Linked DNA regions of Homo sapiens: all the other regions are linked to region 1. Evidence: fine-mapped expression QTL. A gene starts in region 1. Each other region holds a variant in brackets. All regions are shown on one strand. Distances are from middle to middle.

Region 1 (9,987 bases):
TCTAATATTTTTGATCCACGCTTGCTTAAATCTGTGGATACAGAACCCATGGGTATGGAGGAATGACTATATTTTCAAATTGAACAGTTTCAGAAGAAATTCTGGCAAGTCCTTAAAGGCTCTTTCAGCCCTAGCCTGGACTAGCTTTCATTTATACTTGACCATGGCCATTCCCTTACCATTCCCTTTTCCCTCCCCTCAGTTCATTTCTCCATGGGGCCCTTCCCGGGCTCCAGAGTTTAGACCAAAGGAAACAGTGCTACCAGATGACCACCTAGTTAAGAGACAGCCAGCTCTGATAAGACTGATGTCTGTAAAGGTCTTCTGGTGCTTGAAAATCCTTTGTCCTGCCAGGGAACAGACTTGGTGTCTATTTCCATTTCTGTCCTTATTCCTATTTCTTTCCAGTGCCATTTCTAACACACCATTTGTCCTGGGTCTCTTTTAACTTATCATTAATCTAACACCACCCCCGCCCTATCATATGCTTTCGCATCATGTCACATATTCACAAGGTGCAGAGCAGAAAGGAGAAGAGCTTCCTTGACTCAAGCAAATGAATCTATACTTGGAGGCATCATGAGATAAGCAAAAAATACTTCTGAAGAAGACTTTTCAGCGTCCCTTGAATCAAACTGCATTGTAGTGTTCTGACCAGGGAAGGAAGCCATTTCCCCACTGACGAGAGACAGGAGATCATACAGCACAAAATTTAGACCAGAGTCTTTTCCATTCACAGGCCAAGCAATTAGTCAAACTTGGGCAGTTTCCTTTCCCATTCAGCCATTAAGAGTTTGCACATCATTATTAGGGTTTATTTAGCCCAGTGTGTAATGGTAGAAGAACCAGTGGGGGAGTTGGGTGCAGGGAGGTCTTCCCCAAGACATCTCAGTCATGTCTGAGCGTCACTTTCCCTAGTAAAGTTAGGACATTGGATTAGATCTTAAAGTCCCTGGTTGCTCAGATATCCTAAGGATCCTAGGGCATGAGCTGGCTGGATGGATGCACAGAACCCCTAGGGATGGTCCTCATGAGTTTAAAGTGTGATGAGCAGCTTAGCTGGATGGAGTCTGATTGTTAGGTGGATTCTGGGCTGGCCCACACGAGGTCCCTCCACCCTTGTTCCCTCCCGGGAAGATTACTGTGGCATATGTCACAGGCTTGGAGCAGACCAGGACCTTAGGAGGTAGAGGGGGCAATGAGGATGGAGCTGGGAGTGAAGGTTTTCCTGATGGGGAATCAAGAGGTAGGCTGGTGTAGGTGGTATTGTCAAATGAAGGTGGTGAGTCAAGCCTAATGTGTGGTACATCCAAAGGCAATTCAGCAGCCGGTCCAGAGTCACTGACGTGGTGGACCACTGAGGAGGGATTCTGTAACAAAAGCAGGCAAGTCAGGAATGCCTCCCTCTGCCCCAGAACTCCCTTTGGTGGGAAGCCCAGGACCACACTAGATCTATCTCTTGAATCCTGAGTATATCAGTGGGCAAGAGGGCTTCATTGTGAAGATTTTCAAGCCCCAAGTTTCTCCCCAAATCTGGGAGGGTGGGATGCCAAGGGAGACCATTAGTGTCAAGTTTACAGCATTTAGGAAGAGGGTTTGGACCCCAACTAGGTCCCAGTCCTTTCTCCACCCCATCATCCTAGGACCTCTCAGTGAGTGAGATGAATGGAAAGTCTGGGGAATTTGGCTGTGGGCCTGCAGAGGCCTCTTACCATGCCTGAAACTCTGCTGCTCAGGAATCGGCCACAGACACCAAGCCTGTTCCCTGGCAGGACAGACAACAGCAGCATAGTCTGCTTCCGGGGCTGGCTCAGAGCCCTTCCCTCACTCCCTTCCTTCAGAAGCCTCTGAAACCTCTTCACTACTGCAGACTCACCTTCCCCACTCCCACCACCAAACCTTTACCCCTTCCATCTCCCCAGCCTGCCGTAAATCTCCCCACCCACTTACTGCTTCCAGAGCTCCCTTCAACCCACCTCAGCGCTCAGCCTACCTCCCGAGACCCTTTCCCCACCTTCTCCAATGCCTTTCCTCCCATTGCATTGCCCTACCCTTTCTAATTCCTGTCTTTCTGCAGACTGCTCCCATTGAATCTCCTTCCCTCCCCTCCATCCCTCAGCCCTGGGAATTCTAGGATATGGGGGCCTTGAGACTTAAGCCCAGGCAAATCCATTTGTAGGGGGATTGGACCTAGACTCCTGGCCTCATCTGCACAACTGGTTGATACTGGAATGGTAGGGCCAGGCTGAGATAGGAAGATAGCCACCTACCTTGTTTCCTCTTGGCCATCACAGCAAACAGCACCACCGCTGCCACCAGCAGACCTACCAGGAGCACAGCACCCCAGATCAAGGGGATGCTGAGGAACAGAAAGGGATAGGCAGGCTTAGACCTGAAGCCTGTGGGGAGCTGCTGGCCAGGAGCCCTGGAGCAGTGACAGAAGGGTTACATTCTTGATTGGGAGAGGGAGATGAAATAGAATGAGGGGAGCTGACTGAGGTAGGGCAGAAGAGGGACTCATTAAGGTATCCTGGCTGAAGAATCACCAGCATGAAGGCACCATTGCTGACCCAGGACAGAGAAGTATGTATCTGTCTGTCTGTCTGTCCAGAAGTTCCCCAGAGGTGGGAAGAATCATAGGTTTTCCCCTTCGATTTAGTTTGGAGCTCTAAACAAGTCATTGTCTCCACCACCACCCTTCTCCTGGCCTCCCAAATCCAATCCTGTCAGTACCTCTTCTCATCCTGGCTGGGTTCCAAAGGGTTGGCACTGCCTGCAGGGTCTGAGAATGCGTTCTCAGCCAGACTGCCAATCTTATGGGTCTCTTCTTCTTCCTCTGTCAGGCCAGGAATGGAGTCAGAAGGAAACATTTAATGAGTGCATGCCCATATGGGCAGGCTTCAATATCCTGTTGAGGTCTGAGGGACTGGAGGAGTGGAGCCAAGGAAGGAGAGGACCCCAGGAAGAAACACAGAAAGGGGAGGCTGGGATGTTCTTTAGGGGCCTGTCACTCCACAGATCAGGAAATGGCACTGGCTCTTTATGTCTTTACCTGGTTGTGACTACACCCACTTTTCCCTCTACCACCAGCTCCCCCCATCTTCCTGCTGCATTTCTTCCCTTTTACCTGCTCTACCCCTCACCCCTCTGGCCTTATCAAGCTGTTAAGTCTGTGTAAAAACACCTACTGGATGATCTGTACCCACCTCTCCTTCCCACCCGAATAGGTTTCTGCAGTTCTCATCCTCAATGGTGACATAGCTCCTGGATCTCATGGGTCTTAAATGGGGCTTCCTCACATACCTGTGACCCTGCAACCCTAGCCCAAGCTCTGCCCTCAGGACTGAAGAAAATCTGGGTGGGCCCTCATGTGATGCAACACAAACCAACTGACCCTTGCTGAGAGCCTTGCTGGGATCCTGAGACTCAGTTTGAGGACAAGGCTTCTGTCACCCATATGATGTGCTTGACTTCTGGCTGCAGGACTTGGGGTTGGTTTCTCTGGGCCTGGAGACTTGTCTTAGGAACCTGGCCAGTCCTTTCAGACCGACTGGAATGGGGCCTTGCCTTGTTCTTGAGAGATTCACCATTCCTACTCCCCATCCTATGCCACACCAGGAACTGGGGTTGCTGTGGCACATGTCCTGCCCTCCTGGTGCCTATTAGGCTGCCTTTGACCACCTTCTCTGAAGCTAAATGCTCACCTGAGCCGCAAGCCACATCATCTCTGGATGCTACGCGCCACCTGCCTGCCTGAACATCATCCTCCACAGCACCTGCCCCATGGCAGCAGGTCAGGGGCCCAGGTCCCTGCCTCCCTGACGCTCCTCCCAGGGAGTCTCATCTTGTCACAATTTGCCTTTTAGTGAGTTAGAACCTGAATTTAGTAACTCAAAGTGTCAAGGAATGAGGAGGGCAAAGGATGACAAGGATTAACAATATATTTATAATATAAAACAATAACCACAGGCTTGAGATGAGAAGGATTCTAATGACAACATAGTCTACCCTCTTATTTAGAGGGAAAAAAAACAAGGGAAGGGGCCAGGGGTGGTGGCTTATACCTGCAATCCCAGCACTTTGGGAGGCCAAGGCGGGCAGATCACTTGAGGTCAGGAGTTCAAGACCAGCCTGGCCAACATGATAAAACCCCGTCTCTACTAAAAATACAAAAATTAGCTGGGCATGGTGGTGGGCACCTGTAGTCCCAGTTACTTGGGAGGCTGAGACACAAGAATCACTTGAACCCGAGAGGCCAAGGTTGCAGTGAGCCGATAGTGCCACTGCACTCCAGCTTGAGCAACAGAGTGAGACCCTGTCTCAAACAAAACAAAAAACAAGGGAAGGGAAAATGCTCTACTTAATTTTATTATTTGGGGGTTGGGCATAAAATATGAGAAAAGGAAGACCTAAAGGTGAAAAAATGGCCAGTATCCATAAAAGAAAAGGAGTGGCTGTCTGTGCTTCAGGTAGCTGACCATTTTTTATTTTTAGAACATCCTATCTTTCTTAAAAAAAAAAACCCAAGTTTTTAATATTTTAAAATTTTCTTTTAACAAATGCTTATATACTAGAAAAGTTATGGGCTGTGGGAATGAAACCTGCAAAAACAGTGTCTTTAATACTGAAAATAGGGTCAAGAATATTGGCTTAAAATATTAATGACATTTTTCCATTTTTAAAACGAAAGGAGTTGAAGTTGTTCAGGCACTGAATGTACCTACTTGTAGGTGAGACATACTAGATGGCCTGTGAAGACTTATAAAATTAATTAAGGTATGAATTCCATAATTCTTAAGCCATCAAGCCCGCTATTACAGGAATAAAACACTGGAAGCTACAAAAATTAATTCTGGTTTTATACACTCAGATTCAACATTGTTTAAAATATTTCTAATTAAAAAATAAGTTAGCATCAAGTATGTTGAAAATGCTGGAAGAAGAGGCCAAGTCCCTGGAGTGGGAAGGACATGCCTTCCTGTGGGGAAGCGCAGTAGTGTGGAAGGGGGAAAGGGATGGTTTTCAGCTGATTTATCTCAGACTTCCCACCCAGTTTGGTTTCCGCTCCCTGCAGAGCTGTCAAGAGGATATCTCCTTGGAATGCCTCCTCCCCAGGGGCCCCCACTCCTCAAGAACCCATGAGCCCTGGCAATAGGCGGGGGTGGGGAGGGTAGGTCTAAGGGGTGGTAGCTGGCCTAGGATAACTCACCTGGGGGCAGTATGTTCAGAGAGACTCTGTGCAAAATCTGGGGCCCCCTGGCCCCATCCACCATGCAGCCATACTCGCCAGCATCCTCTTCCTGCAGGGTAACCATTTCCACCTGCAGCAGGCCCCCACCCAGGTCTGTGAGAAACGTACGCCTGCCCGCTGGAGCTCTGCGATCCACAGCTGAGGACACCAGGGGCTGGCACCCCTCCGGCAAGAACCGGCACCACACCTTCTGAGCTTTGACATCCTGGAGCCTGTAGTGGCACTGCACCAGAATGGAGCTTCCCACGGGTGCCTGCAGCACCTCAGGGAGGCTGCCAACTATGCCCTGACCTGGGGAAGGAAAGGAGGTGGGAATTTTGGGCAGGAGCTGGGAGCATCTCCCAGCCCAGCTGCTGGTATGGGTGTGGCATTCACAATAACACGTTACTCCTGGACATGGGGCTGAGCATATGGGGCCCAGAGCTGCAGCTCCTCCTGAACCTTACCTTCTAGTCCCAGGAGCAGCAGCAAGAGCAGGGTGAGGCCCATGGCTGGGCAGAGAAATGTCAACTCCTGGGCTTGCCTGGGCACTGATGCAGCATTCGCCTGAGGGCAGGAAACATCTGCCTCAGAAAGTCACTTGGGGTGGGAGAAAGGAAATGATGGGCACCTCCAGGGGTGGGGAAAGGGAGTTCTTCCAAGCCCTGGTTGGCTCAGTGCTCAGGAACTGCCCTGAGGGTAAGGGTGGGCAAGACAGGATGAGAAGACCCGAAGAAAGCTAGAAGCCTGCAGGGGCTGGGGCCCGGCTAAGGGGTGAGATGGGAGGATTGTGACAATTGGAGGACAGGAGAGGAAGAGGAAAGATGATCTTCAGGATCTTCCTAATACAGAATCTGAGGGTGCACAGCTATGAAGGAGGAAGGTAGAGTGCCCTGCACCTCACTCAATGCCATTCTTGCTCTCAATTCTTTGGGAGTGCCCCACGACCACCCAAGCTTTTAGGAGGTTGTATGCAGTACAACCTCAAACAGGAAGTTTCACCTTGATCCTGTGCCCTGGACTGGGTCTTTCTTCATTTATTGTCCTGGACACTATAGAACCCTTCCATCTGGATCCACATTCTTCAGTTCTGGGAAACAAATTCTTACTTTGATAATTACATGTCCATTTTCTTCTCCCCTTCCATTTTTCTGCAATTCCTTAACTAGTTGGTTATTGAATGTCGTGTGTTCATCTCATTTTCATATCTTTTCTATCTCATTTTCCATCTTTTTGTCTCTTTTGTTCTGCCTTCAAGGAGATTTCCTCATTTTCTTCCATCCTTCTATTTTTGTCTTTTAAAATGTTATTTTTTAATATTTTTAATTTACAAGACAAGATATTCCTTATTCTTTGAGCATTTTTAAATTCTGGCATACTATTTTTGTTTCATGAATGCTCTATCTTCTCTGTTGGAAGACAATTCTTCACAAATATTTTCACATTGCTGCATGTTCTAGTCCTTCTGTGCAAAGGGTATTGGCCAAGTTTTGCTGAAGGGTGATTGAATAGCAAACATACCTTGAGTGCAACGTCCAGAGATTTGCTCGCATTCTTCCTCTTCTTCACCGGAGATTTACATTCCAGAGTAAACGTTTCTCTCTCTCTCTCTCTCTCTCTCTCTCTCTTCCAGAGAGGAAGATATACCAGATTCTCTATATAAACTCCAAGTCTCCTAATTTGGGGGTTTCTCTCCTGTGATCCAAACTCACTGCCTGCACAGGAGGCACCTGGCTCTCATTCATGTTGCCCTGTGGAATTGGGCTCGAGGAACTGGGACAAAGTGTGAGTAATAAACCTAATAAACTATCTGACCTCAGACACAGGGGAAGCACCAGTGGTCAGAGAGACTACAGCAGCTGGGGATGGGTGGGAGGGGCGTATTGCCCTAATCTGGAGGGTAAGACCTAGAAAAGGGCCTGGAAAGGCCATTCTCCCTCACTCCCATCTCCTCCCGTCTCACCTTTTTTCCTCTTTTTCCTTCCTTCCTTTGGGAACAAGGGAGTGAGGAATGGGAAACTGGGAGCAGGAGCATGAGAAAATCAGTTAATGTGTTAAGCTGGGCCTTGTGGAAGTGGGAGATTGGGTGACCAACTTCCCGTTTTTGCTTGGGATTGAGGGGTTTCTTGGGACTTTCTGTGCAAAAACTGAAAAAGTCCTGAACAAACCAGGACGGGTCACCCTAGTTGGTGATGTGCTTATGTCTGTCTTGCCAATGCATATCAGGCTTTCTTTGATTTCCTTATAAGAAAGTTATTTTCATACTAACAAGCCACCCAGGCGTGTTGTGTGAAGAGGTGAACTGTATTCAACACTGGACTAAGTGTTGAATATGGTCCACTGCTGGGTGCTGAGACAGAGGTGACCAGGCAAGATCCTGGCCTTCATGGAGACATCATGTTGCTGGGCGTTAGATGAAGGAAACCAGTGTTTATTGAGGACCTACTATGTGCCAGTCACCTGGCCAAGGACCTTCACAATGTTATTTCTTTCTTTTTTTTTTTTCTTTTGAGACAGTCTCACTCTGTCACCCAGGCGGGAGTGCAGTGGCGCAATCTTGGCTCACTGCAACCTTGGCCTCCTAGATTCAAGCAATTCTCTGCCTCAGCCTCCCAAGTAGCTGGGACTATAGGCATGCACCACATGCCTGACTAATTTTTGTCTTTCTTTTTTTTTTAGTAGAGACAGGGTTTTGCCATGTTGGCCAGGCTGGTCTTGAATTCCTGGCCTCAAGTAATCCACCCCACTCAGCCTCCCAAGGTGCTGGGATTACAGGCGTGAGCCACCATGTCTGGCCACGAATGTTATTTCTTTCAACCTCACAAAAACCTTGCAAAGTAGGGGAAGTGGTTGTTTTGTTTATTTGTTTCTACAAGCGAGGGCACTGGGTTTTAGAGGGATTGAGGAGCTTGCCTAAGGTGTCTTAATAGGAGGCAGAGTTGAAATTTGAGGCCAAATGGCCTCACTTCCCTTCAGTCCAGAGTGCTCGCAGAGAGTCTGAGGCAGGAGAGCCTGTGGTGATTCCAGTCCAGAGAGGAATGTCTCTGACATGGCAGAGAAGGAAAGAGAAAAGGCCAAGCTCCCATGAGGAGGAAAGCCTGATTCTGGGCTGGGGCTGATGGCAGCCACTGCCCTGGAGCACGAGGCAGGCCGCGGGGAGCCTCCCAGGCCATTTCATCGGCACTGGTGCCCACAACTGGGGCAGGAGGTAGGTGGAGAAGGCGCAGTTTGGGCTCGGCTCATTCTTGGTGCTACCTGTGCCCTAGATCTATAGGAAGGGGGCAATGCCCCAGGACACAATGAGGAAGTTTAATGTGCCCCTGAGCCAGGGAGGCCATGGGAACACAGGTTGGACCAGAATCCCAAGGCTCCAGGACAGGGAGCCAGTGGAGCAGCTTACATTGGGAGTGGACAAGGCAGGGTTGGGGCACAGCTGGGACCAGGGGAGTGACATGTTGAAGTGAGGCTGGAACATGAGGGCCATGCCAGGGGCTCCATCCTAGTGATTTAAACCTTAGGTGCCCAAGCGCAGGTTAGGTGGCAAGGCAGCCATGTGAGCTATGGCCACAGGGGATCCTGGGCATCCACTTCTCTGGGGCCCAGTCCAGAGAGCCCAGGAATATGGCCGACTCACTTCTTCTTTCCCCTGCAGCTCACCCTCAGGGGAGTCTCCTCCCAGTTTCCCCATGAGTCTTGGCCAGGGTGGTGTGTGTGTTGAAGAGAGAGTTGAGGTTGCATGTGCTGCCTTGGCTGTTCGCTCGGCCCTGAATACTCCTCCCCGTGATGTCCTCATGGCTCACTTCCTGGCCTTCTTCAAGTGTTCCTCAAATGGCACCTTCTGGCTTCTGCATTTAAGATGGTATCATCCCCTGTCCCTCCTGCACACCCATACTCCTAACCCTGCTTGATTTTAATTTTTTCCTCAGCACGTTGTGCCTCTAACAGGGAATCAGATTGACTTACTTACTGTGTGCATTGTCTGTCTCCTCTCCTTCCACTAAAGTGAGCTCTGTGTGGGCACAACTCTTGCCTCTTTTGTCCACTGTTGTATTTCCAGTGTTCAGAATAGTACTCGCCACAGACTGGTTGCTCAAACTAATACTTGTTGAACAAATAAGTAGGAGTGAGTCAGAGGAAAGAGCACCTTGAATGCCAAGTGAAATTTGGATTTCCAGGCTCTACTGGGGATTTTGGGTGGGGATTTTGGGTAAGTTCCTTTCCCTTGTTGAGCCTCAGTTTCCCTTCTATATGATGAGGGGCTTGAACCATCAGTTCCCAGTTTGATAATGCTGTACATTATCAAGCCCTTGTCATTTCTCCGAAGGGGAAATGATATGATGAAAACAGAGTTCTAAGGAGATGAATGGATGAGTCTGCCAGGAGTTGACCTTGGTGGGGAAGAACTGAGTCAGCTGGAGGGGGCCTTGGGGCAGGGAGGTTCCATAATCCAGGGGAAGCTGATGGAGAGGGTGAATGCTGGGGAGGAGAGCAGAGGAAGACTGGGTGCTAGAGAAACCCCAGAGGAGGAGGCAGAACTTGGCGATCAGATCTAGGGAAGGGAAGAGAGAGAAGAAAAAAACTGACTGGCTGATTGAGCCTGTGAGAATGGAGGGATGTGGTATCCTATGGTCCTGGGCCTCAAGGAGCAAAATCTCTTGTCTTTTTCTCATCCAAATTCATTTTCTTACCCCTGTGGAAGAAAATGAGACTTTCATGATGCCCAAAACTATCCAGCTAAATATGACAGTCTTGGATTT
Region 2 (9,987 bases), 150 kb before region 1:
CAAACAAAAAACTGACCCCCAAAGCCAAAAGAAATAACATGTCTTTATTGAAGAAATGTCCATTCTTCCTTCAAAGCCTCTTTCCCTTAACAAACGTGGTATGCACAGCAAAATGGAAAAGATGTCAGCCTCCACAGTACAGAGGAGGTGAGAAGATCTGCTTCCCAGCACACTGTGGAAAGGCAGGGCCTGGAGCAAGGCTGTGACCTCAGCTGCACATCTGGGTCCTAAGACCACTGGAGGGAGCTGTGCTGAGTCAAGGTTAGAGAGCCCTTGGCAAGCAGATCCCCGGCAAGGCAGCCAAGTCAAAGAGGAAGTTTGAACACTTAATGGGACATCAAATGGGATTTTCCCTGCAATCTCAGAACTTCTGCTAAAAGCCCTAAAGTGGATAGCAATAAGTAAAAGTGCCCCCGCAGTCTAAAAAGAAAGTGATCAGAGGATACCTGCAGGATTTTCTCAAAGATGAGTGATCCAATCCTCCCATCCCACCTCCACCACCCCAAGAGAATACTAGAAGATTTGCGAGTCCATTGAAATAGGCGCATTTCTAAGAGTAGGGAGTTGTCAGCCTAGTAGGAAAGGCTAGGGTGTTTCTCCATCCCTCCCTTTCCCCATGAAGGCAGGAGGAAGATGTTTCTCCCATCCTCAAGTGAGGCACAAAGATCCAAGAGAACAGCAGGGAGGTCAGGAGGCCTTCGAGAGGGAGAGAGTGAGTCCAATACCCAGCTGGGTGCTGGCTGAGCCACAGAAACCAGTAGGCTGACATGGTGCTCCCCAGACAGGAGCTTGGGGCTTGCCCTTGCCCCCAGGTTCTGGAACAGGGAGGCTGGCACCTGCTTTTTGTCCAGAGAATTGTAAAGGAATGTAGGAAGCTGGCTGGGCTGGCTTGCAGTGGCAAGTACAGAGAGGGCATGAGGTGGGCATCCCTCTCATCTGGGCCACGTGACCACTACGGAATGTGTCCCTACTCTAGGTCTGATAAGACTTCCTCCTAAAAGGGAAGCCCAGGAACTAGAGGCAAGGTGTGGGGGAAGGTGGTAAAAAGCAGACTAGGCCACCTCTCCAAGGCAGACCTAGCTCAGGCTTGAGCTGAGGGATGGGGAGGGGAGAAGCATAGTGCTGGGTATGAGATTGAAGTTTTGATTTAGCCCGGCCACGACCTTTCAATGCTTGAAAGTGAGGTGAGGCAGCCAAAATAAAACTAGTTATTATAACTGAAGGTGACCAAAAAGCTGTGGGCTGTGCCTGAAACAACGTCAAGGGATGGTCCAGAAATAAGGAAGAGAAATGCAACAGAGAGCTAGAAAACAATAGTTGGAGAAAAATAAAGCCACCTCCTGATTGTACTCCATGGAGTCACATCGGTCAAAAAACCAATTACAATTGGAGGGAAATTCACCAGAGAGAGAAGTGCTGTCTAGAGAGTAACTATGATTGGGGAGAACTGCCCAAAGACATTCCATTCTCCATCTCATTAGAGTATGCATTCTCCAGGGTGTGAATGCTCCCAAGTGCTCCCAAGGGGGTGGAAATTGGCTGGGGTGGGGGTGTGAAAAATCTTAGATGTTTCAAAGTTTTATGACCCTCCAAAGTTTAATCCTGCCCAACAAAATAGTATGTAATTATTTCTTAATTTATGTTTACTATACATTTATTTATCAATACATATCTTATCTCTCTATAAATTTATATTATTTTATGTTATTATTTAAAATAGTGTTTAGGATAGGGAAAAAATGAAAGGAAGGGAATTTTTTTTCCTTAGGGGAACAATGCTGAAGAAAAGTCTAGAAACATTGAGTTAGAGAGAAACACAACATTCAACCTCAAACCAGAACTGGTGTTTGGATAAAATTTTTCTGGCTCCAAGTAGAATTGCTTTCACTGAATTTGTTTTGATATCCTACCTTTTGAGGGCTTTATCCTCTGCTTCACAAGGTGTCCTTTTCATAGGGACCCAGAAGAGAACGTTCTTTCAGGTTTCACTGTAAAGAAAAGCAGTGCTTCTTCTGGATAAATGGTTTGTTTATCTTTTATGTTTTATCTTTTATGAGATTTGTTATGCACATCTCAAATTAGATCAAGTTTCCCTCTTTGCTTCAGCCACAGGGGAGCTCAGGGCACCTTTTGTAACCACTGCAGGACTGGGCCATATGCATATCTGGGACTTTGCCTTATCTGTGCTTTTAGTATTTTTCTACTTTTAACTTTGCCCCAATTCCCTCAACTGTGTTTTAACTCTTTCCTATTTCATGTATTTTTATAAGCCCCCTACAATCCTTTGTGGAATATGTGGGATATAAATATGTAAAGAGGAACACTACCTCTCCTTCCAAAGTTTTCTTTCCGCCCACTCTTATTAAGTCTGTCCTTATACAGTTGCTTTTCTTTTTAACTCAATGCACAACTAAAAGGTATTCTATTGGGTTTTATCTTTTTCTTAGTTTTCCAGGATATTAAGATCATCTTGAAAACTGATTCTGTAACCCAACATGTTTGCCAACTTTGTGTTATCCATAGTGTTGAGGACCATACCTCCCATGTCTTCATCCAAGTCATTGATAACAATGTTGAATGGAACAGGGCTAAGACAGACCCCTAAGGTATGCCACTAGAGACCTTCTTCCAGCCAATATCAATGCACTAATCCCCTTTCTCTTCTGATATGGTTGAACCAACGATTAGCCCACCACATTTCTGCCATCTGTCTTCTGGCTAAGCTACTTGGTCAAACATCTCTCTGACCAAGGAGCCTCTGCCTACAGCATTCCTTAGACCTGTTACTCTTAATATCGCTCCCCAAAAGGAAGTAGGCTGACACTGGATGCCGGGAACTCAACTCTACTGCAATTGTGTGGCTGCCACCTCTGCACTGGAAATTTGATACTGGATCCCAAAAATAAGAAGCCTGAGTTGCCAGCTGCATGAGTAAAATGAATACACCACCCAGAGCTATGTGTTTCCAAATCAAAGTCTAATGTAGGTTCTCCTCACCGGTGGAGCCTGGGTCACATGACTGGCACCAGCTGCAAAAAATACTAAAAATCTCAGTTCTCTGGATTCTGCCTTGGAGCAGCAGTTCCCATATGTCAGGAACTCTAACAAGGATTAGAATGATGCTCAAAAAGTGCTAAGCAGTCAGACATGACGAATGTCCCTAGAGCCCAAATGGTGGGGGGACATGGCTGCCCAATGAGCCCAGGCTCCATCCTGCAGTTCTCAGACCCTTCTCCAAGCTCCTAGGAGAGGAAAGCCAGTGGGCTAACCTTGGACGGGGTGCTTTCCAGAGACAGTCTCAGCTAGTTTGCAAGGGGTCAGGCAGTGCTGTGAAGGCTGTCGGTGCCCTCCTGATGTCCCCTCAGGGCATTTGATCCCCTCCTGGTGTGCTTCCACCTGAGTCAGCAGGCACCTGAGTCTCTGTGTCAGAGGACTGTTCTCGGGCAGCCTCAGCCCTGGGAATTCACATCCCCTAAGACAACCCTCAATCAATATGATTGACAACATAAGGATTAAACATTCTCCAGCCTTCTCCATGATGAAACAACTCTGAAGTGTGACTTACACCATTAACAGACATCCCCTGTGGGACTCTTCCAAAGTTACCCTCGGGGACACTTTGCTTCATACTCACTTCTTTCCCTTCTTTCTTCCAGTTCCCTACGACCTCTGGATTTTCCCTGGGAACACACTTCCTAACACTTTCACACAAACCTTTGCCTCAGGGTCTGCTTCTGGAAACCAACCTAAAACAGGAAACCATGGCTGCCGGAAGTCCATGGTGGTAAATCGGGAATTACTAGAGAAGGAATGAAGAGAAGACCCCAAACGTGTCCGTTGTCCCCCTGGTTGGACCCCCTCCAGACCACCTTGGTTCTGAATGTAGAAACTTAACCTCTAAATATCTGCCCAGGCCCTGCCCTGGTCCAGAAGCAGAGCTGGAACTCAAAACCAGTTTTGCTGAAGGTGTGCACCTTCCCAACATCCACTGGTGAGAACATCCCAGCACACTGCTCTGTAACTTCCAGAATTCATTCCTTTCCCCTTTTTGAATGTCAAGAGCTCATATGCCCATCTCATGTCATTGAGCGCAAATCCCTCCCCTATAATTTATCAAAGATTGATGACAGTGACTCTGAAATCTCATGTCAAGTCCCTCCCAGGCTGCACGACATAATTCATCAGGGTCAGAGCCCTGAGTTTATCACAGCTGCTGCTACCGGCTTTACTGCCTCAATGCCTGTCCTTGACTTCAATCCCCTCTTTGCAATGTTTGTTCTACCCTTTTCAATTGGAAGACCACTTTCCTTACTGGAAAAGAAGGAGGTAAAATCATAGTTAGGCAGCACAGCCCTCACTTTACCTTCGGCGAATGTTAAATCATTTTCTCCACGCAAATCTTTCCCTTAATTTTTGCATGTAGAACAGAGAACAATGGGGTTCCTCAGAGAGTTCAGAACCCCTAGCTCATTTGAGACAGTAGATTTTCCTACCCCACTTCTTACAGGTGGGGCCACACTGCTGGATTCAGCCCTTGCCCTCTGTCACTTAGGGGACGCTGAAGGCTGTTTTACAAAATGTGAACCTTCATGGCCACTTCTGAATCCTAAGCCAACTGTTTTCGGACCCAGGCTGCTTCTTCTCCTGCTGACAGCTGTCACTCCTTTATTCCCAACCACCTCTCTACTTAAGAGCCTGACTAAAA[GT/G]TTTTTTTTTTTTTTTTTTGAGACGGAGTCTCGCTCTGTTGCCCAGGCTGGAGTGCAGTGGCATGATCTCGGCTCACTGCAACCTCCGCCCCCCAAGTTCAAGCGATTCTCCTGCCTCAGCCTCCCAAGTAGCTGGGACTACAGGAGCATGCCACCATGCCCGGCTAATTTTTGTATTTTTAGTAGAGACCAGGTTTCACTATGTTGGCCAGGCTGGTCTCGAACTCCTGACCTCCTGATCCACCCACCTCAGCCTCCCAAAGTGCTGGGATTACAGGCGTGAGCGACCGCGCCCGGCAAGAGACTAAAAGTTCTTAATTATAGTCCCTGGCCCATACTTTGAATTCTCTTGGCTTTTATTCCTGAGGGCAGGCCTCATGAAATCACCCCTTTCCATCACTTTAAGGGAAGGACCATCCTGCCTCATCCTCAGGAAGTAACATTTTTCTGCAAGGTTAGCCACCAACAATTGCCTTTAGGGTCATCAAATTTTTGAGACTCTCAAGCCCAGAAGATGCCCTGGTTCCCTGGCTTCTAAGCCTCTTGCGTCCCTAATTTCTTACTACAACTTACCCTTCCATTCTTGCACTATTTTTTTCTAATCTAGCTATAAGAGAGATTCACTTAGTTTCTTTAGCTAAATTTCCATTTTTCCTCTTCAGCTGGATCAATGCTATTTTAAAACAACAACAATACCAGGAAGAGTAAATGAGAATCTAACGAAAATAGTTATCTGCAGGGTGTGAATAGAAATGTAGAAATGTAGCAAAAGGGCTAGGGATCGGAGGGAGACATCTTCTAGTATACCGTCTTATATATGTTTGATTTTTCAATCATTTAAATGTTTTTACATGTTTAGAAACAAAATTAAATTACCAAGAGCGAAAAAAAACTAAACCTAAAGATGAGTTTTAACAAAAGCAAATGAAACCTAATTCTGTATCAAATCATATAGAAAAATTCTAATTCAAAGAATTTGGGACACAGTACCCTGACTATACACCCTTAATGGAATATATTCTAAAGAGAATAAACACCACAAAGATGCCTTAAACCTGACTGAGTAGGTTTGTTCTTAGTAGTATAACTGGTGCAGTAACTCTGAAATGATTTGTGTGTGTTGTAGAATAGAGAAAGTTAATGAATATGTTGGCATTTTGAGAACCAAGTTCTCACTGTGAGAGAAAGAACACATGAATAGGGATTGTGGGAAGGGAAGGAAGACCCTGGGGTGTTGGATTTGAATTGGAAGTATCAAAGTAAATACAAGATTTCTTTTTTTGAAAAAGTATTTGCTAGCTCTATCCACTGAAAGAGCCTAGAAATAACAATGCTCCAATGGAATGAGTGCACCAAGCACCCAGAATTTGGTTTTTTAATAGTGTTCTCCATTGAAAGGAGCCAGGAGCCTTGGGAGAAATGACTGATCCGATTCTGGAGCAGAGACAGTACAGGGTAAGCCTAGGATGTCAGGTTGCGCTAAAAATCAAGAAAGTGCTCAAATTCTAATGGTGACATGTCAAAGGAGCACGGGAGCCAAACTGAAAGGGCTCCCACCAGGCAAATTTTGGACAATTTGAGTTTTAATATTTGTAATTAATTATGACACATGGATTTTTTTTAAGTTCCCCAGTTCATGGTGATATTCAAAAGGGTGGGGAAACTCTTCTTCATGAAAGAATGCCTGTTAATGAAGTAGAATGATAGAATTAGACAATTACCATTTTACAACGTAGTGAGTTACTCGGCTAAGAATCATCGGTGTATTCTGTTACCATTGAATAAAAGGTTGGTGAGATATTCATGCAGTTCAAATATAACCCCTTCAGATTACTTAGTAAGTAAAAAGGGGCAAGGGTGCAATGGAGAACAGTGGTGGACACCACTTAACCAAATGATCAAACTCAGCATCTAATAACGGGACCAACTGACATGAAATGGCAGCCAATTTCTCTACAATAGAAATGGCACGGATTCTTCAAAAATCTCAGGAAGGACCGAGCACAGTGGCTCACGCCTGTAATTTCAGCACTTTGGGAGGCCAAGGCGGGTGGATCACTTGAGGTCAAGGAATTCAAGACCAGCCTGACATAGTGAAGTGAAACTCCGTCTCTACTAAAAATACAAAAATTAGCCAGGAGGTGGCGCACGTCTGTGGTCCCTGCTACACGGAAGGCTGAGGCAGGAGAATCGCTTGAACAGGGAGGAGGAGGCTGCAATGAGCCGAGATCATGCCACTGCACTCCAGCCTGGGCAACAGAGTGAGACCCTGTCTCAAAAAAAAAAAAAAAAAGAAAGAAAGAAAAAAGAAAAGAAAAAAGAAAGTCAAGAAGAATTTTAAAAAATGATCTATTCTAGACTCAAGGATAATAAAGACACATGCAATGCATGATCCTTGAATCAAGGAGGGAACTACAAAGGACATTGTGGGGACAATGGAGGATATTTGGATGTGGATAGTATATGAAATAGTGCTATATCAATATTACATTTCTTGAATGTGATATGGTATTGTGAAGGAGAGTATCTTTAGAAGAGATGTGCTGTAGTGTTTAAGAGAAAGTATTATGATGTCTATAACTTAAATGATTCAGATTTTTTAGAAATATATATATGCTAGGTGTGGTGGCTCATGCCTGTAATCCCAGCATTTTGGGAGGCCGAGGCGGGCAGATCACCTAAGGTCAGGAGTTTGAGACCAGCCTGGCCAACATGGCAAAACCCTGTCTGGCAAAACCCTGTCTGTACTAAAAATACAAAAATTAGCCCAGCATGGTAGCACATGCCTGTAACCCCAGCTACTCAGGAAGCTGAGGCCTGTAACCCCAGCTACTCAGGAAGCTGAGGCAGGAGAATCATTTGAACCTAGGAGGCAGAGGATGCAGTGAGCCGAGATCACGCCATTGCACTCCAGCCTGAGCAACAAGAGCAAAATTCCATCTCAAGAAAAAAAAAAAAAAAGAAAAAAGAAAGAAACATAGATAAATAGATAGATAGATAGATAGATAGATAGATAGATAGATAGATAGATAGATGATAGATAGATAGGCATAGGCATAGATAGAGAGAGAGAGACATGGCTAATGTAAGTGAAACGTTCCAGGTGTTCATCGTACTCTTCTTTCAACTCATTCATAGATTTGAAACTTTTTGAAATTAAAAATTGAAGTAGGAGAATGCTCTGGCTTCACCTCAAACCATTTAAGTCAAAATCTCTAGGGGTCAGCCCAAGTTTCTTTTATAGCATTTCTCCAGAAGTGTTTACTGTGCATCCAGGGTTGAGAACTACTGGCCTACCTGATTCATGATGATGTCCAGGCCCTCAGACCCTGCCTCAGCCCCCAAGGACCCTGAAAATAAGTCTCTTAAAGGTCACAGGGGCATCTGAGTCTCCAGCAGGCCCTTGCAGCCCTGAGTCAGTAGCCCAGGCTAAGGAGGAGAGAGTAAAGAGTCTTCATAGAAGTGTCTGCTTAGCATAGGAACCCTGACTGCTTTTAGGTCCTTCTGGCTTCCTCCTGCCAGGCCTCTCCCTTCTCAGAGGCCCCTCTGAGATAACCCTCATTCTGCCCCTTCAGGCTGCCTCTGAAAACCTCAGGCCTCTCTTCCTCCTCCCTTGTTCATAAGGCCTCCAGCAAGGGACCTTGCATGGCACGCCCTCAATAAATGAGTGCCAGGTGAGCCGAGGTGGGCTCACTCACACTGTGCCTCTCTCACTGTCACCCTCAGGGGGGAGGAGGAAAAGCCCATATCAAACATGGGCAAAGGGTTTTACTTTGTCCAAAAAAAAAAAAAAAAGCAGAAGCTGAAGGTCAAAGAAGCAAAGAGAGTGGGAAGGACTCTGTTCTTTACAAAGAACAGAGTCATGACACCTCACACTGGACCCTTGCTAGGTGTAGGTGCTGTGGCCGCACTGAATCTGTGTTATCTCATAAAATCAACAGCCTAGCCTTATGGGGTGGGTCATACTGTCATTGTCACTTCACACCATGTGTCCCCAGCATCACACAGCTGGAACCTCAGCAGTCTCGGACCAAAGCCCACACCTCTAGCCATGGTGCTAGACTGCCTACATAGGACTTAAGGAGGAGAAGGAAAGCAAGAGCCAATATTGATGAGGCGCCTACTAAGATGATCTTGTTGAATTCTCTCTGCAGCCCTGTGAAGTCAATCTTATCTTCTTTTGATGAAGCTGAGCAAATGGACTCTGAGATAAAGTAATTTCATTCCATCATGTTGAACAAGCCTAAAATGTATCATGATCTGCATTGTCTTCTGTATGAATGGCAATCTCTGGAGTTGTGCAACCCAGGATCAAGAGTGACTTGCCCAGGGCTATGCTGCCAGTAAGGGATGGTCTCTGGATTTGGAAGCAAGGTCTCTCAGACTTTGGCCTCCCTGGAAAAGCCCTGCTGTCCCCTCACCCCCACCACCTCAAGTGTTCTGTTACCAGACATCTCTCCGCAGGGATCAGAACCTCCCTTCTGCAGGGAGAAGTGAGTCTTCCACTGCGCTGCCATCAAGGAGGTGTCAGAACCCTGAGCTCTTCTAGACAGACCTCAGCTGTTGAACATGTGAAGAACATGCCTTTCTGCAGATGATGAAGTGGGATGTTGGGGATGAGAAAGCAGAGGCAGAAAAGTCTGAGGCATGCCCCCCACAATTCAGCAGACTGTGGGGTAGTGGCACTCATAGCTAGGATGACCAGCTCATCCCAGTTTTCTCAGGACTTTCCTTGTTTTAGCATTGAAAGTCCCACATCCAGGGACAACCTTCAATCCCAGTCAAGGGAGATGGTTAATGTCTTGGTCAGCTTGAGCTGCCATAACAAAATCCCATGATGGAATAAAACAACAGACAAATTTCTTTCTCACAGTTTTCCAACATCGAGGTGCTGGCCAATTTGGTTTCTGTTGAATGCTCTCTCCCTGGCTTGTAGAAAGCATCTTCCTAGCGTGTGCTCATGTGGGCTTTCCCTGGTGTGTGCACATGGAGAAAAAGTAAGAAAAAGAGGGAGAACAAGAGACAGGAAGAAAGAGAGTGCGCTCAGGAGAATGCTCCAACGTCTCTTCTTAAAGGACATTAATCCTGTCATGGGGGCCCTACCCTCATGACCTCATCTAACCCTAAATACCTCCAAAAGTCTATCTCCAGATACAGCTACATTGGGGTTTCAACATTTGGATTTTGGGTAGACACAGTTCAGTCCACAGCAGTTGAATAACCTACTTGCAGCCAAATCCCTCTTCTCAACCCCTGGTCCCCGAGATGCCCAAGGGGAGAA
Region 3 (9,987 bases), 100 kb before region 1:
GCTCGCCTCCATTCACATGCCTCCCCACCTGGCATAAAGATTTAGCACTCAGATGTTTAATTACCTGAAAAACAAAAGGCTTTTTAAAAGTGACAAAAAAGCCAAAACAGAAAAATACACCTTAAAAAAGGGTACTAGGGGGCCAGGAGTGGTGGCTCACACCTGTAATCCCAGCACTTTGGGAGGCCAAGGCGGGTGGATCATGAGGTCAGGAGTTCGAGACCAGCCTGGCCAACATGGTGAAACCCTGCCTCCAAAAATACAAACATTAGCTGGGTGCAGTGGTGAGTACCTGTAGTCCTAGCTACTCAGGAAGCTGAGGCAGGAGAATCACTTGAACCCGGGGAAGAGGAGGTTGCAGTGAGCCGAGATCATGCCACTGCACTCCAGCCTGGGTGACAGAGTGAGACTCCATCTCAAAAAAAAAGGGGGGGATACTAATTATACATGTTAAGGTTATATAGTATATATTATACATTAATTTATATATCAGATTTATGATGCAATATCTAGTTATAACATATACTATGGTTGTATGATATATATGTTATACATCTCTGATAAATAAGATTATAGACCTTCTTTTTTGCTTTCATACATTCCTATGCTTTCCTTATTTTACATCAATTAATTACTATTAGAATAAGGCAAAGAAGATTGAAAAAAAGAGATTAAGCCTCAGGGTGCTGACAGGTGAATCCATAGGAGCTTCTTGTTCAGCCTTCTATCTTGCTTCTCTTTTTCTAAACCTTCTTAGTGGCTTTTTAATTTTTGACTCCTCCCTTCTCTGATTTTCTTCTGTCCTTGTTTCAAAGCCCTGATGGTGGCAAGGAGTGACCGCCCTTGAGTAAGCCTCCTCAAATCTTTAACAAGGTCAGCTGGAAGGCCCAGACACCTTGCAGTAGGGGGTCTCCACCTGCTGCATGATGGGGATCACCAGAATTGTTTAAAAATCCTCATCAGCCTCTCCAGGAAGGAGGCCTGGGCATCAACATTTTTAAAACTTCCCAAGACCTCCTCAGGTGCAGCCAAGGCTGTACCACAGCTGTTTGGAGCTATTTAAAAAAATGCATGTTCCTCAGACCGCACTCAGGACCCATAAATGAGAACGTTGCGGGTGGGCTCTTGGCATCTTCAGATTTAAAACCTCCTGAGCACTTCTGTCAGCTGCTAGCTAGTTTGAGTGCTTTGGGCACAGATCGTTTATCAGGGCCCGTTTAGCCTTGACACTCTGAGGTTTTGTGAGCTGAGTTTTAGAGCTGAAACAAACTGTATGCTCTCAGGTGAGAAGCCAGTAAGGCAGCATAATTTGAGAAGAGGAGTGGCTCTTTCCAGAGCTCACCCAAGAGAGGGAGTCTGCAGCCTCCCCTCCTCCACCAAGGGCATGCTCAGCCCAGTGGGTCAGGTCACAGGCACCCCAGGAGGACACACACAGTGTCCCACCCACCTTTGTATCTCCAGCCCCAGGACAGGGCAGAGCACAGAGTAGGTGCTTGTACGTTTTTATTTGTTGATTAATTGAACGAATAAATGAACACATTGTTGTACTTTAAAAACAAATGCTGACCAGCACCTGCCGCCACCCCTACCCCCACCCCTACTCTGGAACAACTGAAAAAAGAAGGGAAAGGCTTTAATCATTTTGGAAACTCCTGGTTCTAATGTGCAGCCAAACTGAGATGTGCTGCTGCAGGGTATTGCTTCTTACTGCTTCTCAAAGTGTGCCCCAGAGACCTCCTGAGACACTTGTTGGGACTCCAGACCCATGAAATCAGGTCATCTTGGGGAGTGAGAGCAATAGGGTATGGTGATTTGCAGTTCTGGCCATGGAGTCAGACCAACCTGGGGTTGGATATTGACTCTGTTATCTATTAACTGGTAACCTGGTGCAACTTCTAGCTATAAATACTGATGGACAGAGGATAGGCTCGGAACCCAAAATACATGGGTTCTTACCCAGCTCTACCACCATTGTGTGATCTTGGCAAGTGGGCACCCCAGACATTATCTTCCATTATCATTATTATCATCTCATAATAATATATGCATTGTAATATTTGCTACCAATTTTATTCATTACCAGCTAATTCTAGAAGTTAGGTGGAACCTCCAAGAAGATGTATGATGCCTAGGGTATTACTTTGACCTCCCCAAGGCAAGCTGGAGCCACTAACCCATGCCTCTAGCTTAGGACTTAGCCCTAGAAGAAAGCTTAATTTGGGCAGTGTCCCAAGCCCTGGGCTAGCACGACCGCCTGATACAGCATGAGCCAAGCTAAAGAGATTTTTGGCCATGTGCAGAAACTCAGCATGAAAGGGCAGAATCCCAACTCCAAACTCTTATCCTCTAACTCCAAAGTTGTCCTTAAAATCCTCCTCTGCCCCAGCTCCTTGGTTCCTGGGTGAAGGGAGCCCCTAATCCCACAGTCTCCAACCTCCCTGGGGCTCTTATCTTTCCCCTTACCCCACTTCCCAGTTCAGAGCCCAGCCTAGTGGACACCTGCCTTTGCCCCTCCTCTCTTGTTACTTAAGAGCTGTGCCTAAATAGACTTGGAGCTGCCTCTTCTCTTTGCAAGTGTATCCCAAGCTTCCACCATTCAAATTATGTGCACATTTTTGTTCTGAGGCAGTATTTTTCCATTTGCCTCTGATTTGGTTGAGTCGGAGACAGACAAGATCATAAGGCTCTGCAGATCTCCCGTCCAGCGGCTAGAGAGGCACTAGGTAAAACAGCAGACCCAGGAGGTGGCATATCTCATTCTATTGTATCCTAGTTCATCCTTTCCTCTTCTAAACCTTCACTCTTCCTCACTTTGCCAATTTCTGCAGAATGGAAACATAGAGAGGCTAGGTGAGATGGCAGAGTGGTAGGTGTATGTCTAGTGGTCAAAGATTGGTCAGCTGGGCTAGGAACAGGGCAGAGTGTAGGATGTATTTATTCTGCACATCTCTGGCCCCTCCTACCTACAGGCAGGTAGAGCTGCTGCGCAGGAGATGCCTAGAGGCCCCTGAATGTTGTCAGTCCTGGGCCAGGGCTCCAAAGTCTCTTTTCTTTTGTGAATGGCCACTATCTGCTCTGTCGCTTGGGGCTCCCCTGTACCCCAAGCCCAGTTTCAGAGTCTTCCCAGAGGTCCCCTTTCTTGTAGTTCCAGAAAACAAGCACACAATCCTTTTGTTTTAAGGATTTTACTGCTGATTCTCATTAGCAGCTTACAAGGTACTCAGTCCAAAGCCCAACTTTGCTGAGAACTCCCTCAGATCTCGACCTTCCTCTTGTATCCTCAAGTAGAGCCCAAAAAAACATTTACTTGCCTCCCAGACTCCTTCTCCCCCCACCCCCAAATGTTGAGGACACTCCATACATTTAGGCTCTTCTTCTGGTATGGAAGCCAGGGGAAGCCATCCCTGGTCACACCAGGGCCTTGATCATGTTCATCAGGGCCTCATTTGTCCCTTTCCCAGGTCGCCCAGCCCACACAGAGATTATCCGCTAAGACAAGTACCAGAAAAATCCCCCTAGCGTCCACTTGCACCTACTCTAACACATTTCTCATTTTAAGGGCTGAAATTCCCCTCTCAAGTTGATTGTAGTTTGTCACCTCTTCCCAGTAGGTTCTTTGGCCTTGCAAACACCCCTTCAAAGAGGAATACTATTAGTCACCTTAATGTACATGATCCTTATCAGATCACTTTCTTTAAAGACTGAAAGTGCCAGCCACGGGAGCTGGGCAGTGCCAGGAGTAGCCACTGGAATGGAAACCATGGTGACCAGGACTAAAGTCACCATTTTACCCAGGGTGGTGTGTCCCACATGGCAAAGCAAGCATTGTGTCCTGTACAGAAGACTGTAAACTCTGTCCTGCCCTGTGATTCTGGTGCCTTCTCCAATCCCAGCCTCAGACTCTGGGAGACCCTTGGCCCCCTCCCCTCTTCATTGGCCAAGGCTGCTCAAAGCCCTGGACACCTCACGTTTATATCAACAGAGCAGTTGCTAGAGGAAGCAGCCTCCCGCCCTCCAGAGGGGTGTCTGGTGCCCGAGCCCTGTTGTTTGTGTACCTTGTCTCAGTAGTGACCAGAGGGGCAGGCAGGCCTGGGCTGTGTCTCTGGGGCAACGTACTGTTGGGGTCCCAGCTGTCCCTGCACATAAAGCACCGACTCCATCAATGCACCCCTGAGGTATCCTCTTTCAGGGAGTGAGAATTTAAACCTTCCTCTGGTGAG[G/A]CTTCTATTTTCCACCAGCCCTGCTCCTGGCCTCTCTGCTCCCTTCCCAATGAGGGCAGCTCCACATCCAGCCAAGATCCAAGGAACAACCATGCCTGACCCTGTCCTCTCCTTCTCAGCCACCTCCTAGAATCTCTGAATGTTTTCTGAAATGACCGTGGGAAACAGGACAGGGAGAGGCATGCTGCAGCGTATCCCAGGCCTAACCCAGCTCCTTTCAGCCACTGCCATCCCAACAGAAGGGGGCAAGGGCCTGCAGAGACAGGCTGGGAGGATTCCAATTTTGGTTTCCATCCCCAGATACTAGCTGTCTGGTGTCTCTTTACCTGTACCCCCAAAACACAGATACACACACACACACACCCCTCATGTACCAATTACTCCCTAGAGTCTGTTTTTCCTGCAAGAACTCCTTCTCAGCTTCTTCAACTCCCACTGGTCTCTGTCCTTCCCTTCTCCCAGAGCTGGGCCTCATGGGTGCTGGCAGCAGTTGAGACTGAATGGTGAAGGAGGTAAAACATGACTCTGGAAGCACATGGCTCTGCCCTCTCTAGCTGCATCACCTTGGGCAAGTCACTTAACCTCTCTGGTCTCAATTTCCTCACCAGAAAAATTAGGATAATAATAGTACCTACCCCAAACATCCTTGTGAGGAATAAATGAGTTAACCTACATAATATTTTAGAGTAATGTCAGGCCAGCAGCAAGGACTGTGTTAATGTCAGCTCTCCTTGTTACTAAATTCCAGGGAATATGACACAGTAGGAGAAGCATGGAACTTGGGAGCTGACAGATATGGGTTCAAATCCCAGCACCCCACTGACTCCACATGTGACCTTGAATGAAATACCTTACTGCCCAGTATCCTCCTGTGCAGGAGGGGGACTACTGATAGAACCTTACCCAATAGGGTTAACACTGGGTGTGGGGTGTGCCAGCCCTGAAGAGTATAGAGGCAGCTGTAGGGAGAGGAGTCAAGCTCCTGGAATCTGATCCCCCAGATTAGTTGCTGCACTCTGGGGTGAGCAGAGTAAACTGGTCTGACTTGGAAAGAAGAGCCAGAGACCAGCCAGGAATTCAGGCCCCCAGGAGGTGCCATAAATAGCTAGAGCAGATCAGAGGGCCTCCAGGGATGGCAGGCTGGGAGACGGGGAAGGCTCAAAGGAGCAGTGAAAAAGGAAGCTGTCAGTCATCAGTCTGGGGGCAGACCCAGGACCCTCTCCCAAAGGTCGAAGGGAAAACTGTCTATAAGTAAGACAGAAGAAAGGGGTCAACTCTTAAGGACCAGCCTGAGACCACCTGGGCACCATTCACTCTGAGCTGTTGGGAGAGGCAGGAAATTCTCGACACGCCATTCACCTGTGGTCTTCACAAGCCCACTCGGCGCCCTATTTTCTGCCCTTTGACCATTTGGAAATAGAAATCAATAGCACAGCCTGTGTCACAGATGGGAAAACGGAGGCTCAGAGATGTCAAGTGATTTGTCCAAGATCACACAGTGAATCGGGCTAAGATGGGGATATGAACGTAGAATATTTTTTGCCTCCTAATCCAGGGTTATACATGACAGCCAAAATAGAAGGCCCTGTCCTCAGGGAGGAAGTCTTTCTTGCAGGGGAACAGTGAACTGAAAGGATCCATCCTCCTTGCTTTCCTCCCCAAGACATTTTACTCTTCCTCCGTTGATCCAAGCATATCACCCTAGCTGGGCCTGGGAAGTGTGAGAGGGATGCACATTTATAATGCTTCAGAGATGTTTCATCAAAGGTAGCTGTGCGCAGCCCTGGGAATAGGCTAAACTTGAACTTGGGCTCTGAAGACCTGAACTCAAAGCCCGTGTGATCTTATACAAATCACTTCACCTTTCTCAGCCACAAGTCCCTAACTTGCAAAATGAGGCCCATAATTCACACCCATGTGAGACTGGTGTAAGGACTAAATGAGATAATGCATGCTTGAATGCTTGATTAATGCCCCAAATATGATAAAAGCTGGGATCCCCTGGTGAGCCAGCACCTTATTTATCTCTGTACTCTTGGTATTTACCACCGCACCTGGAACATAGGAACCTCTGATAAATGTTGACTGAACAAGAAAATGAAGTAAACTCTTTACATTTAAACGTGGTATGTTTGTGTGATAACAACATTCTTTGCAGTTTATCAGCTGCCACTGTCTTTTTATTGTGGACACAGGCACTATTATCTCTACTCAGTGCTTTATTCCCCCCGAAAAATGTTTGAAAAAATAAGATCCAGATAAAAATGCTTTCAGTGGCTGGGCGCGGTGGCTCATGCCACCCAGCATTTTGGGAGGCCAAGGCAGGCGGATCACGAGGTCAGGAGATGGAGACCATCCTGGCCACATGGTGAAACCCTGTCTCTACTAAAATTACAAAAATTAGCTGGGCCTGGTGGCACATGCCAGTAGTCCCAGCTACTTTGGAGGCTGAGGCAGGAGAATCGGTTGAACTCGGGAGGCGGAGGTTGCAGTGAGCCAAGATCGTGCCACTGCACTCCAGTCTGGTGACAGAGTGAGACTCCATCTCAAAAAATAAATAATAATAATCCTTTTAGTAGTAAATCCAAAAGGTAGGGGACCATATAATTTATTGTCCACAGCGGGACACCTTTGGGAGTAAAGGGGTGCTATTAGTAATTATGTCTGGACAACAGGAAGAAACCATGACTGGCAAACCAAAATGCTGGGCATCACACTAACAGAGCACTCTGCTGCTCAGACTCTCTGGAGGAGTGAGCCCTAAATCTTCCAAACCATCTTGACTCCTCTTCTTTAGTCAGACCCTCCAAAGGGTGCCCTACCCTCTCATCCCCACCAGCCAAACCCATTTGGAGCTGTTTTCAGATCCGTTCCCCAGTGTTCTTAGGTTCCTCATTTTCAACCTACAAGTGACCCTGACCCCTTCCTTCTGCTTCCCTGAGAATGGCCTAGAGTGTTTGCACTGCTCCAAACACGAAGACTTTTGCCTCTGCTAAGTACCCATCATGAGAGCTGCAAAAATCATCTAGCCATCCTCTGCTGCTGTTCCGGCTCAGGGTCTTTTCTATGGGCCCCCATCATCTCTCTCTGGCCTCAGTAGGCTTCTCACTGGTCCCCTGCCTCTGCTCTTCCCAAGTGCTCAGACCACCTGTCTCACCTGTTCAGAGACAATGGCTTCCCACCTCAGTCTGAGAAAAAGCAAGGTACTTATGACAGCCCATAAGGCCCCAGTCCCTTTTACCCTTGTTATCTCTCTGGCTTAATCTCTTAGAACTCTTCAGTCACCCAGATGTATGTCCTCGCTAGTTCCTCAAACACCCCAGGAATGCTCCCTTCTCAGAGCCTTTGCTCACGTTGTTCCCTTCCTTGGAACGCTTTCCTCTTAGACAACCAAATGATTAGTTCCCTTGCCTTCTTCACGTCTTCTTCAATTGTCTCCTTTTCAAAGTCCTTCACCCTGGCCATCCTATAAGTACGTAACCCCACCTCTTAGCACTTCCTGTTTCCATTTCCTGTCTTTTCTCCTTGGCACTTGTCATCACAAAATAGACCATGTATTTTACTTACCTTATTTGTTGTTCAGTTCCTCAAGCTCCACAAATCATCACAGCAGGGATTTTCATTTGCTTTGTTCTTTTGCCATATTCCCAGTACCTGAAACAGCACCTGGCATAGAGTAGATACTCAATAAATATTTGTTAAGAAGAATAAAAGACTGACTGTGAGGGCACATAGCATGGAGGTTGAATATTTGGCCTGAAGTACAAAAGCCTGCATTTTAATCCCGGCTCTGCACACTTCTGTGACTCAGTTTACCTGTAACTTGGGATAATACACATCGCCTCCCATGGCTGTGGCAAGCATGCATCTGATTTCATTTAAACCCCTAAACCCACTGCCTGGCCTGTTTCAAAATCTCTGAGCTAAGTAAATGGCAGCTATTGTTACTCAGGGAGGCTCCTGATCGATTTGACATTACATTATGGCTTTGTAACAGGCAAATCAGCACCCACCGCTTTTGAGTCATAACTCACACACTTACTCCCCAAATTGTCAGTTTTGATCCCACCTCTGCCAGGACCCCTCCTTTCCTGAACCCACGTTCCCCCAAAGCAAATGGCCTGGGTCTTTTTGCAGTCAGCCCCTTTCAACACACATCTCCTCCTGTTTAAATCTCAGAAGGCCACCCTCCTAAATCTCAGGATGCCTGCCCTGGGGCCCCTTCCACACTCTCCCCCAGTGGAGCTAGGGAATTTGGGTGGGAAACAAAGGGGAGAACATAAGGTGAGCTGAGAGGGAGAGGGAGAAGAGAGCAGGCCAAGCCATACCCACCTGCCAGGTTCCTGTCTTTGCCTACTGATAAATAGGGGATACTAATGGCCAGATTTTCCATTCCCCCACCCCAGCACCCGCTGTCACTCAATTAAAAAAAGATAGAGGGAGAGAGCCTGGGGGAGGGGCAGGAGGCCTTGGCTATAAAGCCTGTGGCTAAGTGGGGAAAGCACGAAGCCTGGCCTGCTGGGTCCTTTTCCCGTCATCCCCAGCCAGATTTAGCTGCTGACAGCTGCTTGGGACTCTGCCGCCAGGGCCTGGCCCAGACCTGCCTGCCTCTCTCCTCTCCCTCAGTGACTCCTGAGCCACAGCCCCTCCATGGCCCAGAAGGAAGAGGCTGCTGTGGCCACTGAGGCTGCCTCCCAGAATGGGGAGGATCTGGAGAACCTGGACGACCCTGAGAAGCTGAAAGAGCTGATTGAGCTGCCGCCCTTTGAGATTGTCACAGGGTAAGCCTCAGATGTGGGTCAGGGTTCTGCTCCCTAGAAGAGTGCAGCCTTGGGTTAGGCTGTGGAAATTCAGGATGGTTATATTAGGCGTCAGGGACAGCTACAACCCTGCAGCAGTGAGAGTGCACCAGTGGGCCCGGCAGGGGTGGTAGGGGACCCAGCAGCAAATTCTCTTGGCTTCTCAGGGTGACACCTTGGGCTCTCTAATCAGGGAGAGGTAGGAGGAGCTCCTTGGAGGCAAAAGCCCAGAGAATAAAACCACCCTTCAGGCCTCCTGGTATTGGGATGGCCACCTGCCTCTCTGGGTAGAAGCTTAGTCCCAGGGAGTTTGGCGAGGACAGAGGATGAGACTGGCACATCTATATGTGGCTCCGTTCAAAGCAACCCTTCCCCTCAACTTCTCTGTTCCTGAGTGGGTCTCTCCGCTAGCCATAGGCCTCTAGCCCTTTCTTTAGAGCTTCTTCCTGGAGTAGATGCTCCCAAGACAGGAAAGATAGATCCATCCTTTCCCAAGACTCAGAAGCAGCTTTTTTCTTATTAAATCTTTTGAGTCTCCTCAGGGGCTGTCCCACAGAGAAACAGAGAAATTACATGCAGATAACGCAGCCCAGGAGCTTATGGACACAGGAGCTGTTCCAACATGCTCAGGCATTGCCTGGAGGAACTGGGACCCAAAGAAAAGGGTCTACAGACTGCAAGGAGGGGGCTGTGTGCAGGGTACCTCTGTCTTATCCAGATTATGCCATCTCCAGGAATAAAACTAAGTAGTCTTCTTCCTCTTCCCTTTCTATTCCTGTAGTGGAAGACCCTTCTAAATCCTGAGCAAAGAATAAAAAGAGAATCTATGAGGCCATATTTCCTCCTTGAACCAAACGTTCCCTTCATGGGGTCTCCAGGAATGACCACAGGCAGAGTGGGTGCGAGACTAAGAGAAGTTTCAGGAAGAAAGGAGGCATGATGCTTTCAAGGGGGAAAGGAAGCCCTGA

What was found.
Region 2: its variant is fine-mapped to the expression of TREML1 in whole blood (INTERVAL, PIP 0.96).
Region 3: its variant is fine-mapped to the expression of TREML1 in whole blood (TOPMed, PIP above 0.99).

The regions. Positions count from the first base shown.
Region 1 is chr6:41,148,549-41,158,535 of GRCh38, forward strand. It overlaps TREML1 (triggering receptor expressed on myeloid cells like 1), which reads right to left and starts at 5,799. Exons shown (of 6, transcript NM_178174.4): 1 at 5,698-5,799; 2 at 5,210-5,542; 3 at 2,734-2,836; 4 at 2,271-2,359; 5 at 1,713-1,765; 6 at 789-1,370. The coding sequence starts at 5,740. The coding sequence ends at 1,056. TREM2 (triggering receptor expressed on myeloid cells 2) reads right to left here. Exons shown (of 5, transcript NM_018965.4): 5 at 9,960-9,987.
Region 2 is chr6:40,999,482-41,009,468 of GRCh38, forward strand. All of the region lies in intron 1 of LOC101929555 (a long non-coding RNA gene), which reads right to left. Among named protein-coding and RNA genes, the nearest start is that of UNC5CL, 35 kb to the right of the region's middle. The variant GT/G (reference allele first, on the strand shown) is at 4,706.
Region 3 is chr6:41,044,478-41,054,464 of GRCh38, forward strand. It overlaps APOBEC2 (apolipoprotein B mRNA editing enzyme catalytic subunit 2), which reads left to right and starts at 8,725. Exons shown (of 3, transcript NM_006789.4): 1 at 8,725-9,001. The coding sequence starts at 8,871. The variant G/A (reference allele first, on the strand shown) is at 4,221.